2 separate regions of the Homo sapiens genome follow, and region 2 is linked to region 1. Evidence: fine-mapped expression QTL. A gene starts in region 1. The other region holds a variant in brackets. All regions are shown on one strand. Distances are from middle to middle.

Region 1 (2,923 bases):
ATAAATTATAAAAATGTACTGATCTAATAGCATAGATATGTTTAAAAGATGAAATGAGGAAAAAAAAAACGAAGTTCTAACGTTTTTTCCAAATCCCAAAGAATCATCTTCTGATACAGACCTTGACCCTATCCCATTGTTTCTAATTCCTTTAGCAATCCCATACACTCAGAGTATGACGTGCTGTCTCACACTTGTTGCTATTAATATATTCTTTTGGAATTTTTCCAGCTCTTTGTTTAGTCCCTGTGTGAACTGAAAGTAGGAATGGGACTTCTACTTTGTAAGTGCCTTATCTCACCTGGAGCATCTAGGGTACAACATCATAGAATATTGACATTGGGGCTATCCTGAATGTTTAATATAGTTAAATTGAATAAAATCACTATGTCTTATTTTGAAGCTGAGAGAAACTTACCTCTTGGAAAGAATCAATCAAATTTTCGGCATCTCTCTTTCCTCCAGGGCGCAGTCCATAGGACCAGTGCTGGCTGGAGCAGCCTTCCACGCACCAAGTCAGTAGAATAAGGCCAGCTAGGAGTTTTTGAATTGGCTTCATTCTAAGGCACATGAATGCACAATCAAATTAGATCCAGACAAGGTTGAGTATAAACTAAAAGACCTCTTTAGTGAAAAAGCTAGCATCTGTATCACTAACCCTGCAGAAGATGGAAGTCAGAGTCAGTTTTTACATACAGACACTGAAACTCAGAGACACTTGCTGGCTTGCCTTTAGTTTCTTAGCCACTGGGGACAAAATGAGTACTTAAGCTCACATGTTCAGGACCTTTTTAGTACTAAAATAGTCTATACTTTTATTTTTATTGTTTGGTTATCCAAACCCCATAATTCATCCCTTATCAAGTTCATCATTTTGCCTTAACATTTCCCCTGTTGTGGATTGGTCTTCAACTCTTTCATTCCTGAGATAAAGAGAACTGAGTCATCTGTTAAGAAAAGTAGCTCCTACTAGGAATCTCTGGCTAATATAAAATTGCTTGACATTACATGGCTACCCCATGGTACTAATGACATTTTTCTATTTATCCTTCAGTCTTCCTAGCATTACTGCTGGCTGAACCATCTGTGGGAGAGAGGACTCAACACTGTTCAAAGTAGTTAGTCCCAGACCAGATGCCTTCCTAGCCAAGGGGGCCTCTAATTTTCTAATGAAATGTGTCTCCAAGTTAATTTTCATTTGATGGGAAAGAGGCTAAAAACTAAATCAAACACTGGTCGATAAGCTGTGGGAGTCCCCAAAGCCTGGATCTCTGTGGCTGGTGATGGCAAGGACAGTGAAGGACAGGACATCATTAGATACCGTCACACCTGGATTTAGCCCTTGGGCTGTCAAATGCCCTGTAGACATACAATAGCATGCAATCTAAAGAAGAAAAACTCGTGCTAGAAATAATACAAAGCCTTTTACCTGTTTAGAGGCAGAGAGCCAAAAAGATCCCAATCTTCCCTTGAAGTAGGTTGAGTACTGTGACTTTTCTGTTTTCCTATCTTCCTTTTTATAGGGAATTTTTCCAGGACATTGAAATCTTTCCTGCTGGTAAATTATACTGCAAATGGACTATGCTTTTTTTTTTTTAATGGTAATTTTTAAAAATCCTCACATAAAGCCCTTTAATGGTGTATGTAATTGGAACACCCCCTGGTATATCTGTTAGATTTACTTAAGTGCAGCCATTAAAACCTCAGCTAAAACTTTTATAGCTGAGGACACAATTCAAAGAGATTAAAATCCAGCTAGATTGGATTCCCTTGAGGAAACCAGCAGACCTATCAAGAGTTCAAGGAAAATAGATGTCTTAGATTAAGTGAAGTCAAATGCATACATAACTTCCACAAAGGAGGCTATACAACAAATATAGGACATTGAGTCAGGATGTCTGGGAGCTTCTGGCTCTTGGATTCTTCATTTGTAAAAGGAAGGGTGTAGACTAGATGGACTAGATGATCACAGAGTTGCTTCCAATTTTAAAAATCTGATTTACAAGTAAGTGACACTATATACCAAGTCCATGTAGGATCCTAAATCAGACAGTTGTGTGTTTGAAAATTCCCTCATCTACCCACCAGGTTCCCTGCTTGACTTACCTTGAAAGCCTTCTAAAGCATCAAAAAGGCAAGAAACATATTCTGAGAGCAAGACCATATTGAGCAGACTTACATCAACAGATCAACTCATTTCAGTAGATGCTTATTGAGTTAAATATGCAAATCACTCTTAAGGGCAGTGGGAACAGAAAGATGAGAAATTATAGTTATTTAATAAATAGCAAATGTATAAGAGCATTCATTACAATAGCCATGCAAAGTGGGTATCATTATCTAAATTTTATAGATGTTCCACCCCAGAGGTGCAACCGTGGACGTGTTATTTACACAGGACAAGCATGTAAAATACACACACAACCATTACTCTTAATTACATTTATTTGAATACATGGTTGTCTTCCCCTAATTTACCCCTAGGCTGAAACCTGTAATAGTCAAAGATCCCATCTTATTTAAATCTCTCTTAATAAACCCCCGGCATTTAGTGAGCATTCAGTAAGTATAGGTTTGAATGAATGAATGAACGAATGAATGAATAGAAAGCAAAAAGCTTTTAACCAGGTAAGGCCTAATGCTGCCTCTATTTCTGCATCAAAGATATGCTTTATCTGACACAGAATTAAACTTTCATGTATAATTGGCTGTAAATCCTGTTATATTAGCTAAGCTGTAAGATGGCTAAAAAAAATAACTGGATATTTGTTCATTTTACAGCTGGGAATGGCAATTTCCCCTCATGTAGGATGCTAAACCCATCAGTCATTGCACAGTCTCCTCTGGAATAACTACATTTGCAGGGATTTCAGAGTAAAGAGAAATGGTGTCTTACCTAAGTAAATTCCCTTGCTTTGTCCAG
Region 2 (2,923 bases), 41 kb before region 1:
GAAAATAGTATTTTGACGAGACCATCACCTAGATAGAAGAGTAATGGCATGCTAACCATTGTAGGGGAGGGGGCTCAGGTCATTGCTCAAAGCTGTCCACGTCTGGCTGGCTATTTTGCTTTCTTTAAGGCTGACCTTGTGAGCCAAAGCTGGAAAGCCCCTCATCTTGTGAAGAATTAAAGATAAAGATGGTAGCAGATACTGAAAAACCGAACATCACCACCACCTTCTGGGCACTTATAATTTACCAGACACTTTCATCCAGACCACCTGCATGAACTACACAGTCCTTCTTTTTAAAAATGTTCTTTATTTTATTATTATTTTTTCAAAACAGGGTCTCACTCTGTCACCCAGGCTGGAGTGCAGTGGTGCAGTCATAGCCCACTGCAACCTTGAACTCCTGGGCTCAAGACATCTTCCTGCCTCAGCTGCTGGCTAATTTTTTAATTTTTTGTAGAGATGGAGTCTCACTATGTTGCCCAGGCTGGTCTCAAACTCCTAGCCTCAAGCAATCCTCCCACCTCTGCCTCCCAATGTGCAAGGATTATAGGCGTGAGCCACTGCGCCTGGCCTTGGAAGGTTCTTTATCTTCTCCCATGGGTGTCTGGTTAAGTGCAGCCGCCTTCTGTGAATCTCAGAATGCACTTTTTAACCTTTTGTAGTCCCTGAGCCCACTTTGAGAAACTGCTGAAAGTTGTGCACTGCCCCGTTACGCAGAAGAATTCCAACGTGCACACACTTCAGCATACACCCTCAGGGAGTCACAGCCTTCCAACGTCCATTCATGGAGCCCAGGTCCAAAACCTGTGATCCGAGAATAGGATAACCCTTTTCTGCCCATAGGGTGTTTTCCAAAGACCTTTCATTGCTCTGGGTTACGTGGGAAACAACAAAACAAAGTCTGACTTTTTTTTTCCCCCAACTGTGTACTTATAACCTCCCCTTGGAATGTCTTGTTTTGTTTTCCAGAAAAAAAGGGCCTCATTTTATGAGAACATCATTAAGGCAATGAGGCCTCAGCCTGAATACTTTGCTGTTGGATACTATGGACAGGGCTTTCCTTCTTTCCTACGGGTAAGAAACCTGATGGTGGTCTCCCAGGCCATTAGGAGGAGGGAAGAGACTCATTTCTTTTCCAGATGGGCAACAGGGTGTTAGCAGCTGCCGACCCGTGTTCTCGCTGTGGGAGGTAGGGGAGGGAAACCACTTCCTGAGCAGCCGGCCTCTTCACCCCACACCCCCGGACACCCGTGGTGTTCTGCAGGT[CTT/C]TTGTGAAATGACTTTTCCCAGGTGCAGTGAAAAAGGGAAAAACAGAACCATCCCCCGCACTGGTCAGCTGCTACGGGTCACGCCAGGGAAAAGTGTGGACTGATGTATTTCGTTGTTTACCATGTTTCTAGCCAGAGCTAATTTGAAAATAGGTATCCCAAGAACCAGACTGCAGGAGTATCCCAAAATAAAACATTTTATTATAATAATAATGACAAGGATGGTATTTTTCTTCCATCTCAAAATTGTGTATAATGCGATATTCAATTTATAGTTTAATAAATAAAAATTCTTATCTCTTACGAAAAGTTTCTTTTAGAGCTGAGCTTTGCTTAAACATTTATTATCCATCTGCTTTCTCCTAATTTGAAAACAAGCGATAAAGCAAGCAATTTACATTCCTAACAGTGCCTAATGAGACAGTTTATTCATTCAGTCAGTAAATATTTATTGAACATCTACTGTGTGCCAGGCATAGGGAAGGCATTAGAAAGATCTTGCTGATTACAGTCAAACATAGTCCCTACTCTCATGGATTTTACAACCTAAACTCATGAGGGGAGATTTTAATCACACATGAATGTAAAATTTAATCTGCATGTCGGACGCAGTGGCTCATGCCTGTAATCCCAGCGCTTTGGGAGGCTGAGGCAGGCAGATCACTTGACGTCAGGGGTTCGAGACCAGTGTGGCCAACATGCTGAAACGCTGTCCCTACTAAAAGTACAAAAATTAGCTGGGCGTGGTGGTGCATGCCTGTAATCTCAGCTACTCAGGAGGCTGAGGCAGGGGAATTGCTTGAACCCAGGAGGTGGAGGTTGCATTGAGCCGAGATCACACCACTGCACTCCATCCTAGGTGACAGAGCGAGACTCCATCTCAAAAATAAATAAATAAATAAACTATAACCAAGAAAGATACCCTGTGCTATAAGAATCTGTAACCAGGAAGTATTTACCCAAGTGAAATAGAAACTTACCCTTTTACAAAAAATGTACAGGAATATTTATAGCAGCTTTAATCATAGTCACCAAAGACAGGATCCAATCCACGTGTCCCTGAACTGGTGATGGGATAAACAAACTTCAGTGTATCCACACAACAGAATACTGCAGCAGCCAAAGGCAGTCAGCTCCTGATACACACAACTGCGGGCATGATTCCCACCCACATGCAGCTTGCTAGGTAAAAGAAGTTACACTTAAAAGGCTGCGTACTCTGTGGTTTTATTTATACGAAATTCTTGCCTAGGCAACGCTTCCTATCAGGACAGAAAGTAGATCAGTGGTTGCTGGCCAGGGGGAGGTTGGCTGCAGAAGGGCCTGGGGAAATTTTTGGTGGCAGTGAAACTGTTCTGTATCTTGATTGTGGTCCTGGTTATGTTTGTCAAAACTCACAGAATTTTACACTAAAAGGGGTCCATTTTACTGTATGTAGATTATGTCTTAATATTATTATTTTATTTATTTATTTATTTATTTATTTATTTATTTTTTTTTTTTTTGAGACAGTGTCTCGCTCTGTCACCCAGGATGAAGTGCAGTGGTGGAATCTCGGCTCACTGCAACCTCCGTCTTCTGGGTTGAAGCGATTCTCGTGCCTCAGCCTCCCAAGTAGCAGGGATTACAGGTGTGCACGACCAGGCCCAGCT

Direction of the effects. Positions count from the first base shown, and alleles are read on the strand shown. Sizes are in standard deviations (SD) of each study's normalised expression.
In carriers of allele CTT in region 2, the expression in tibial nerve of the gene that starts at base 1,490 in region 1 tends to be lower than with C alone (small effect, 0.17 SD a copy in GTEx).

The links. PIP is the estimated chance that this variant, and not a neighbour inherited with it, causes the effect.
Region 2: its variant is fine-mapped to the expression of GNRH1 in tibial nerve (GTEx, PIP 0.98).

The regions. Positions count from the first base shown.
Region 1 is chr8:25,422,772-25,425,694 of GRCh38, forward strand. GNRH1 (gonadotropin releasing hormone 1) reads right to left here and starts at 1,490. Exons shown (of 4, transcript NM_001083111.2): 1 at 1,430-1,490; 2 at 419-560. The coding sequence starts at 559.
Region 2 is chr8:25,381,702-25,384,624 of GRCh38, forward strand. DOCK5 (dedicator of cytokinesis 5) reads left to right here. Exons shown (of 52, transcript NM_024940.8): 40 at 973-1,077. Among named protein-coding and RNA genes, the nearest start is that of MIR6876, 38 kb to the left of the region's middle. The variant CTT/C (reference allele first, on the strand shown) is at 1,270.